Regions from separate parts of the Homo sapiens genome. Here region 2 is linked to region 1. Evidence: fine-mapped expression QTL. Tissue or cell type: whole blood. Region 1 holds a variant in brackets; the other region holds the start of a gene. All regions are shown on one strand. Distances are between the middles of the regions.

Region 1 (5,146 bases):
GTCAGGAATCCAAGACCAGTCTGGCCAACATGGCGAAACCCCGTCTCTACTAAAAATACAAAAAAATTAGCTGGGCGTAGCAGTGCACGCCTGTAATCCCAGGTACTTAGGAGGCTAGGCAGGAGAATCGTTTGAACCCAGGAGGCAGAGGTTGCAGTGAGCTGAGATTGCACCACTGTACTCCAGCCTGGGTGACAGAGCCAGACTCCACCTCAAACTTAATTAATTAATTAATTTAATTAAATAAAGAAAAGCAAGCAGAGCACAGTGGCTCATGCCTGTAATCCCAGCACTTTGGGAGGCTGAGGTAGGAGGACTGCTTGAGCCCAGGAGTTTGAGACCAGCCTGGGCAACACAATAAGACACTGTCTGACAAAAAAATAAAAGGAAGAAAAAAGGAAAGAAAAGCAATGCTTTGGGAAAGAGTCTGGCAGTTCCTCAAAAGGTTAAACTTAGTTACCATATAACCCAGCATTTCTACTCCTGGGTATATACTCCCAAGAGAAATGAAAGCATACATCAATACAAAATATTGCCCATGAATGGCTTTTTATTTTGTTTTGTTTTGAGACAGAGTCTTGCTCTGTCTTCCAGGCTGGAGTACAGTGCTGTGCTCTTGGCTCACTGCAACCTTCACCCCACTGGTTCAAGCGATTATCGTGCCTCAGCCTCCCAAGTAGCTGGGATTACAGGCGCACACCACCACACCCGGTTAATTTTTTTGTATTTTTAGTAGAGAGGAGGTTTCACCATGTTGGCCAGGCTGGTCTCCAACTCCTGACCTCAAGTGATCTGCCCACCTCGGCTTCCCAAAGTGCTGGGATTATAGGTGTGAGCCACCACACCTGGCCAAAATCTTGTACGTGAATGTTCATAGTAGCCGTTATTCATACCAGTTAAAACATGGGGGAGGCTGGGCATGGTGTTTCATGCCTGTAATCCCAGGACTTTGAGAGGCCAAGATGGCCAGATCATTTGAGGCCAAGAGTTGGAGACCAGCCTGGCCAACATTGCAAAACCCTAAAAATACAAAAATTACTAAAAGTAAAAAATTAGCTGGGTGTGGTGGTGCACATCTGTAATCCCAACTATTCAGGAGGCTGAGAACCCAGGATTTGGAGGCTGCAGTAAGCCAAGATTGTACTACTGCACTCCAACCTGGGCAACAGAGTGAGACTCTGTCTCAAAAATAAAGTAGGGCAGAGAATCAAAACATATCCATTACCTGATGATGATGAATAGATAAAGTATGGTATATCCACACAGTGGAATATTATTTGGCCATAAAAAAAGAAGTACTGGCTACACATGGTGGCTCATGCCTGTAATCCAAGCACTTTGGGAGGCTGAGGCGGGCAGATCACGAGGTCAGGAGATCGAGACCATCCTGGCTAACACAGTGAAACTCCATTTCAACTAAAAATACAAAAAATTAGCTGGGCGTGGTGGCACATGCCTGTAGTCCCAGCTACTTGGGAGGCTGAGGCAGGAGAATCGCTTGAACAGGGGGGCGGAGGTTGCAGCGAGCCAAGATTGCACCACAGCACTCCAGCCTGGGTGACAGAGTGAGACTCCATCTCCAAAAAAAAATAAAAAAGAAGTACTGTTAAGAGCTACAACATAGATAGACTTTGAAAACAGTATGCTAAGTGAAAAAAGCCAGTCACAAAAGACCACATGTATCATTCCATTTATAGGAAATTTCTATAATAGGCAAATCAATAGAGACAGAAAGTAGATTAGTGGTTGCCTAGAGATGGGTAGGTTGGGAGGAAATAGGAAGTTGACTGCCAATGGGTATGGAGTTTCAGTTTGGTGTGATGAAATTGTGCTAAAATTGATTGTATCGATGGGTGAACAACTTTGTGAATATACTAAAAATGATTGAATTGTAGGCTTTTGTTGGCTGAATTGCACGGCATGTAAATTATATCAATAAAGCTATTAAAGAGAATCAGTATTACTTGCCATAAATAGAATGGAAACTAAAAATGA[CT/C]TTTTTTTTTTTTTTTGAGATGGGGTCTTGCTCTGTCCCCAGGCTGGAGTGCAGTGGCACGATCTCAGCTCACTGCAACCTCTACCTCCCAGGTTCAAGCGATTCCCCTGCCTCAGCCTCCCAAGTAGCTGGGATTACAGGCACGTGCCACCACACCCGGCTAATTTTTTATATTTTTTAGTAGAGATGGGGTTTCACCATGTTGGCCAAGATGGTCTCAATCTCCTGACCTCATGATCCGCCCGCCTCGGCCTCCAAAAGTGCTGGGATTACAGGCGTGAGCCACCGCGCCCGGCCTAAATATGACATTATTAAACACTAACTAGATACATTTTATTTTTCTTGAAATGGGTCTCAATATGTTGGTCAGGGTCTAAATATATTGGTTAAGCTGATCTCGATTCCTAGACTCAAGTGATGCTCCCACTTCAGCCTCCAGAGGAGCTGGGATTACAGGCTGGAGCCACCACTGTGCCTGACAGGAGGAATTCTTATTTGGTGCCAGCTCTCTAACACTTCTAAATCTTCTAAATCCAAAGTGCAAGGATTACAGGTGTGAGCCACCACGCCTAGCCAATCTCCCTCTCTTTTATTCAAAGAGTGTACAGTGCTGGGCATGGTGGCACATACCTATAATCCCAGCTACTTGGAAGGTTGAGGCAGGAGGATCACTTGAGCCCAGGAGTTGGAAGCTACAGTGAGCCGTGATTGTGCCACTGTAGTTCAGCTTGGGTGACAGAGTGAGAGTCCATCTCTTTAAAAAAAATTTTTTAAACGACTTTTTTCTTAAGTTACTGAGGATAGGAAAGGGAATAATTTTTTTAATTCTGTGATTCAGTGTTTTTGTCTATCTCCAGTCAAATTGCAAATGCCTGCAGTACCCATCCCACACTTGGGACAAACAGACACAAGATGTGAAGCTGGGCACGGTGCTCACACTTGTAGTCCCAGCACTTTCAGAGGCTGAGGTGGGAGAATCACTTGAGCCCAAGAGTTGGAGACCAGCCTGAGCAACAAAGCAAGACCTCCTCTCTACTTATGTTAAAAAAAAAAAAAATTAGCCAGGTGTAGTGGCATATGCCTGTAGTCCCAGTTGCTGGGGAGGCTGAGGCAGGAGGATTACTTGAGCCCATGAGTTTCAGGCTGCAGTGAGCCGTGGTCATGCTACTACACTGCAGCCTGGGTGACAGAGCGAGACCCTCTCTCAAAAAAAAAAAAAAAAAAAGATGTAAAGCTGAAGTACACCACCCAGAATGTGACATATGCCCCTTCCATTTAAGCAATAAGCAATTCTTTTTCATCTTATTTTATTTTATTTTATTTTTTTGAGAGGGAGTCTTGCTCTGTCGCCCAGACTGGAGTGCAGTGGCCTGGGTTCACGCCATTCTCCTGCCTCAGCCTCCTGAGTAGCTGGGACTACAGGCATCCACCACCACCACACCCAGCTAATTTTTTGTATTTTTAGTAGAGACGGGGTTTCACCGTGTTAGTCAGGATGGTCTCAATCTCCTGACGTCATGATCCGCCTGCCTCGGCCTCCCAAAGTGCTGGGGTTACAGGCGTGAGCCACCGCGCCTGGCCTCCTTTTCTCTCTTTTTTCCTTCCTTCCTTCTTTCCTTCCTTTTCTTTCTTTCTTTCCTTCCTTCTTTCTCTCTCTTTCTTTTCTTTCCTTCCTTCTTTCCTTCATTTTCTTTCTCTCTTTCTTTCCTTCCTTCCTACTTTCTTTCCTTCTTTTCTTTCTCTCTTTCTTCTTTCTTTCCTTTCTTCCTTCTTTCTTTCTTTTCTTTCTTTCCTTCCATCTTTCTCTCCTTTTCTTTCTTTATCTTTCCTTCCTTCTTTCCTTTTCTTGCTTTCCTTCTTCCTTCCTTTTTTCCTTCTTTTCTTTTTTTTTTCTTTTGAGATGGAGTCTCACTCTGTCACCCAGGCTGGAGTGCAGTGGCGCGATCTCGGCTCACTGCAAGCTCCGCCCCCCGGATTCATGCCATTCTCCTGCCTCAGCCTCCCAAGTAGCTGGGACTACAGGCACCCGCCACCACGCCTGGCTAATTTTTTTGTATTTTTAGTAGAGACGGGGTTTCACCGTGTTAGCCAGGATGGTCTTGATCTCCTGACCTCATGATCAGCCCGCCTTGGCTTCCCAAAGTGTTGGGATTACAGGCGTGAGCCACTGCTTCGGCCTCTTTTTTTTTTTTTTTTTTAGGAGAGAGAGTCTCACTCTTTTTGCCCAGGCTGGTGCAATCTCGGCTCACACAATCTCCACCTCCCAGATTCAAACGATTCTGGTGCCTCGGCCTCCCAAGTAGCTAGAATTACAGGTGCACGGCACCATGCCCGGCTAATTTTTATATTTTTAGTAGAGACGGAGTTTCACCATGTTGGTCAGGCTGGTCTCAAACTCCTGACCTCATGATCCACCCACCTCGGACTCCTGAAGTGCTGGGATTACAGGCGTGAGCCACCGCACCCGGCATTTCTCTCTCTCTCTCTCTTTTCCTTCTCTCTCCTTTCTTCTGTCTTTCCTTCCTTCTTTTCTTTATTTCTCTTTCTATTCTTCCTTCCTTCTTTCTTTCCTTCTTTTCTTTCTTTCTCTTTCTTTCCTTTTCTCTCTTTCTTTCTTTTTTTTTTTCCCAGAGTCTCACTCTGTCGCCCAGGCTGGAGTGCAGTGGTGCGATCTTGGCTCACTGCAAGCTCCGCCTCCCGGGTTCACGCCATTCTCCTGCCTCAGCCTCCCCAGTAGCTGGGACTACAGGCGCCCACCACCATGCCCGGCTAATTTTTTGTATTTTACGTAGAGACAGGGTTTCACCGTGTTAGCCAGGATGGTCTTGATCTCCTGACCTCGTGATCCACCCGCCTTGGCCTCCCAAAGTGCTGGGATTACAGGCGTGAGCCACCGCACCAAGCCTTTTTTTTTTTCTTTCGACAAAGTCTCGCTCTGTCGCCCAGGCTGGAGTGCAATGGCGCGATCTCAGCTCACTGCAACCTCTGCGTCCCAGGTTCAAGCGATTCTCCTGCCTCAGCCTCTCAAGTAGCTGGGATTACAGGCGTGCACCACCACGCCCGGCTAATTTTTTGTATTTTTAGTAGAGACAGGGTTTCACCATATTGGTCATGCTGGTCTTGAACTTTTTTTTTTTTTCTGGACAGAGT
Region 2 (5,146 bases), 78 kb before region 1:
AGAACCGCTAGAGAGGAGTGTGCTAAGACCCTATTACCCACTAAAACTCCATTTTCATCTTTTGCGTCCTGGATGACTAGTCTCCACATTCCTGGCCTTTCTGGTTTCTCAGGAGAACCTTCTGACCCAACTCTTCCCACATCGAAAGAGTTTCCTAGTCTTTTGTTCTACTACTAGCCGACATAGAAAGCACCTGTCATGTGCCAGTGTCAAATACTGCGCTAGGAACTGGGAACTCAAGGCACAGGAGCCTGGCTTTTGCGCAGGGCGCTCACAGGCCGGTGGGTGCAAACCCTGAAGGACACACAGCCTGTCCCTTTAGCGCCCATCGCTTCTGGTGTGAGCTCCCGCTAAGGGTGGGTGAGTACTGGGGTGGGCTTCCAGAAGAGGCCTCCTTTGAGCCGAATCTGCAGAGACCAAGTGTCTATGAGAACTGCTCAAGAGTGCTTTGCACATTCTCCTCCACAAAGGTCGAGGCTCCCACTGCGCCCAGGAATGCGCCTCGTCAGACATTAGGCGCCCCTTGATTTTGTGTTTGCATCTCACGCGGTCCTCTAGCTGACAAGTGCATCAGAAGAGTCACAGTGGCTGTCACAAGCCAGAGACTCGCAGAGGACAGGAACGCGGGAAATCTAGGCAATTACCTCCAGCATATACCAAGAGCTATTGCGAGGATCAGATCCCTTTAAAAATGGTGACGAGACAGGAGAGGGCGGCTCCTCTAGAGCTTTCCGGAACGTCTTTACCTCTGTGTCCTTTATACCTTTTATCTCCCCCAAACAAGGTCCTTAGTCAGTTTCTCCTTCTATTTCCCCATCTTCCTCCCCCACCTCCCTGTGTAGTTCTAGGGGGAAAAAATGTGTTGTTTTCCTTTTTTTCTGATGCTTCTAATATTAAATGCGTCTATTTTCCCACTCTCCATTGTCTTGAGGTCTTCCCCTACCCACCCTGCCTAGTTCTGTCACGTCCCTTCTTTCCCTGTATCACAACAATGTTCTCCCTTTCTCACCTTTGTTTCTCTTCATACTTGTTTCTCTCTCTGTGTCTCTCTCATTCTCTTCCCTTCCAAATGTAGTATTTGGAGACTGTAATATCGATTGAGGCAGACAATAGAAAACTGTCGAACCTCCACTGTAAATTCATTCTTAATCCTATGAAAAAATGCATCCTGAAACGTGTTGCATGCACAGTGAGACAAAAACCTGTGTCTTTAGGTTTCCTGCGATCTAGCTTGGAGGCGGGTTGGGGGGGTGTGGAGGGAAGTGCTGGAGAAATTATCCCATTATTGACTGAGCAGCAAAGAATTTTCAAGAACAGTGATTCTCCTAGAAAAAGTATTGCTGCTGCCATTTCAATGCAAAATTTGGCTTTTGAGTAAAAGGCTTAGGTTTTTATCTTCCGGGGAGAAAAAAAAAACCCAAAAGACAAAAAAAAAAAAAAAAAAGGTCATAGCGTCCCTGGGTGGGCTCGAACCACCAACCTTTCGGTTAACAGCCGAACGCGCTAACCGATTGCGCCACAGAGACCGAGTCGACTACCGGCGTAGTAGTGAGCCGAGTCAATGGGAGCGAGCCTGGACGGCGCAGACGCCGTAAGAGATGCCGCCATCGGGCGAAATAAGTGGAACCCGGGGGAGAAAGGGAAGGATCCTGATGGGGGAGGGAGGCGAAAGAGCTTGGGAGGAGAGGACGCGGGACGTGCACGCCCTTCCTCCATTGGAACGGCGAGAGGTCGACTCTGGCTATCCTCAGGTTCTACCTCAAACGTGGAGAGGCGCGGAACGTCCCTTTTTAGGGTGACCTGAGATTGAGGATACGTGAAGTCGGGCCGCAGGAAGTCCCCCAAATCAGAACAAGCTTCGGCTTCCAAACTCCCTTTCACAGCTGAACCCCTGCAGCCGCAAAATACCCGCGACGCCTACACGCGACGCCTTCCCCTTCCCACCTGCATCATTAAATTTCCATTTAATGGGCGCCTCCTATATACTAGGCACTGTTGTGGGCCAGTGAATATTCCGAGCCTAGGCAAGTGCCTGGTACACAGTAAACGCAGGATTTCTGGAGTGAATAAATAAGCTAGCACGACTAATACGACGAACTCATACATCACGTTGATAAGCGTCACGGTGCCCCTTCAGCTGGGGCCGCAGCTTCCTAAACCCAGTTTCACCAGCCCACGTGCGCGCAGGCTCCGCCCCCAGTCCCTGAGGTCCCGAGTCCAGGTCCGCCGAGATCCCACTATGCACCGTGTCGCAAGTCTCTTCCGCAGCCACAGTGACTTTTCACTTCCGCTTTTCCCGCCTCCGTTTTGACTTTGCAACCAAACTACCTGTACTGGTGACCGACAGGGACGTGTGACCAATAGAAAGCCCAGATGTCCAGGAAGAGTCCGCCTATCAGCCAATGAAGAGACAGCAGTGAGAGCGGTTGCGCAGTGAAGGCTAGACCCGGTTTACTGGAATTGCTCTGGCGATCGAGGGATCCTAGTACACCGCAATCATGGTGAGATGGGGAGTTAAAGCAAAGGGGCATGGGGAAGGATTGAGAAGCGGAGGGGGTCAGGAGAGGCTTGGGGACGAAAAGGGCCTAGGGTCGATGGAAGGAAGCGGTTTCAGTTCGAGGGGAGCGGGCCCCGGTGAGGACCAAGAGGGTGAGTGCGGCTCATTGCCGCCACACAGTGCTCATCCCAGCTGGAGAACCAGGGGTTCAGACGCCTCCGGAATGGAGAACGGGCGTACAGGAGCCTCCGCATCAGGAGCTGGGCCGGGGGCTGTGGCAGCGTTTGACCCCCCGCGCTGACCCCTCCGCTCTGTCTGTCCTAGTCTATTATGTCCTATAACGGAGGGGCCGTCATGGCCATGAAGGGGAAGAACTGTGTGGCCATCGCTGCAGACAGGCGCTTCGGGATCCAGGCCCAGATGGTGACCACGGACTTCCAGAAGATCTTTCCCATGGGTGACCGGCTGTACATCGGTCTGGCCGGGCTCGCCACTGACGTCCAGACAGTGTAAGTTTCAAGGGTCCCCGCCCACACCCAGGCCTCTTCTTGGACCATCCAACCCCGGCGTCTTGACCGGCCAAGGTGTCAGTCATCTACCACACACCACCAGTGAGTTTGAGACTTTGCCGCCTCCAAAAAACATGTCCTTCCCTTTCTTTTTTTTTTTTTTAGACAGGGACTTGCTCTGTCACCCAGGCTGGAGCTCAGTGGCATGATCTCAGCTCACTGCAACCTCCACCTCCCAGGCTCAAGCGATTCTCGTGCCTCAGCCTCCTAAGTAGCTGGGACTACAGGCGCGCACCACCATGCCTGGCTAATTTTTGTATTTTTAGTAGAGACAGGGTTTCACCATGTTGGCCAGGCTAGTTTCGAACTCCTGACCTCAAGTGATCCACCTGCCTCAGCCTCCCAAAGTGCTGGGATTACAGGCATGAGCCACCACACCTGGCCTGACTTTGATTTTGACAACAATTTTGAGCAGACAAGACAAGCCCAATAGAAACATCTTGCAAGCAGTTGGGGTTTTGTTATTACATCTCAGGGTTGGGGAAGCATTGGCAATGTGCCAAATCTATGGGAGCAGATTCTGGAGAGACAAAGTCTGTAGGGAGGGAAATAATGAGCGGCAGTTTGAGAGCTGAACGTTACATTTAGCAGTGAGGGGCGAAGAGAAGCCAGAGAAGAATAAGAGAGGAAAAGAACGGTGATAGGTTTTCAGGAGGGAATACGTGGTCACAGGGGGCAGGTCCTGCAGGGTACTGGTGCCTGAGGAGCAGCAGGTCCTGGATTTGTTTCCTAGAAGGTGGAGAGACTAGCTCACAAGCGTGGGTGGATGCCTGTCAGAAAATGTTCTCATTTCGGCTGGGCGCGGTGGCTCACACCTGTAATCCCAACACTTTGGGAGGCTGAGGTGGGCGGATATCTTGAGATCAGGAGTTCCAGACCAGCCTGGCCAACATGGTGAAACGCTGTCTCTACTAAAAATACAAAAATTAGCCAGGCTGGGTGGTGGGCACCTGTAATCCCAGCTACTCGGGAGGCTGAGGCTGGAGAATTGCTTGAACCTGACAGACGGACGTTGCAGTGAGCTGAAATTGTGCCACTGCACTCTAGCCTGGGCAACAGAGCGAGACTCTGTCTCAAACAAAATAAAAAAAGAAAGAATAAAAGAAAATGTTCTCATTTCTCTTAAAACTCCCTGAGTCTCAAGAACATAACACTTACTGAGATCTCACCCAGCCTGCCCTTTTTTCCTGTCTGGTAGAGTCAGAGAATGACATCCTGGGGTTCCTGTCAGTGAAGTCTCCCGTGAGCCTTCCCTTCTGCAGTCACTGCTGTTCTCACACCATTTCCTTTTCTTCAGAGGGCTTTTCTCACTGCGTTTGCTTCCTTCTGGGCAATGACTGCTCATTTCACTAGGCCTCAGTTTCCTTACCTGGAAGATGAAGCTCAAGTCATTTCTAAGTCTCTTTGCTCTGGTGTCCTGAGACTCATTGCTTTTCCTCCAGCAGGTGTGGCATTGGTCTGCTCTATGCAGGGGCCTATCCTGGGGCTCTGAGATGGAACTGGCAAGCTGTGACCTTTTTTCCTTTTTTCACCAGAGCTGCCAAATGGCCTTTTTCTAAGGCATCTTTCAAGTCTGTTAGCACATAGCACAGCAGTTGGTGCTGCCCCCTTTTTTTTTTTTTTGTCACCCAGGCTGGTGACATAAACTTAACTCACTGCAACCTCCGCCTCCAAGGCTCAAGTGATCCTCCCACCTCACCCTCCCAAGTAGCTGGGACTACAGGTGTGTGCCACCATGCCCAGCTAATTTTTGTAGTTATTGTAAGAGGCAAGGTTTCGCTATGTTGCCCACAGCTGAACTCCTGAGCTCAAGCAATCCTTCCGCCTCAGTCTCCCAAAGTGCTGGGATTACAGGTGTGACCCACTGCGCCCAGCCTAAACATTTTTAATATGGAACGCTTCACAAATTTGCATGTCATCCTTCTGCTAATCTTCCCTGTATTATTCCAGTTTTAATATATGTGCTGCTGGCCAGGCGTAGTGGCTCACGCCTGTAATCCCAGCACTTTGGGAGGCCAAGGTGGGCAGATCACGAAGTCAGGAGATCGAGACCATCCTGGCTAACACCGTGAAACCCCAT

Evidence for each region. PIP is the estimated chance that this variant, and not a neighbour inherited with it, causes the effect.
Region 2: PSMB3 starts here. The variant in region 1 is fine-mapped to the expression of PSMB3 in whole blood (INTERVAL, PIP above 0.99).

What each region holds. Positions count from the first base shown.
Region 1 is chr17:38,827,966-38,833,111 of GRCh38, forward strand. No RefSeq gene overlaps it. Among named protein-coding and RNA genes, the nearest start is that of MIR4727, 4.7 kb to the left of the region's middle. The variant CT/C (reference allele first, on the strand shown) is at 1,996.
Region 2 is chr17:38,750,329-38,755,474 of GRCh38, forward strand. It overlaps PSMB3 (proteasome 20S subunit beta 3), which reads left to right and starts at 2,413. Exons shown (of 6, transcript NM_002795.4): 1 at 2,413-2,501; 2 at 2,822-3,006. The coding sequence starts at 2,499. TRN-GTT2-5 (tRNA-Asn (anticodon GTT) 2-5) reads right to left here and starts at 1,526; the gene lies at 1,453-1,526. It overlaps LOC100287808 (a long non-coding RNA gene), which reads left to right. Exons shown (of 1, transcript NR_149004.1): 1 at 1-1,424. It also overlaps the pseudogene RNU6-866P.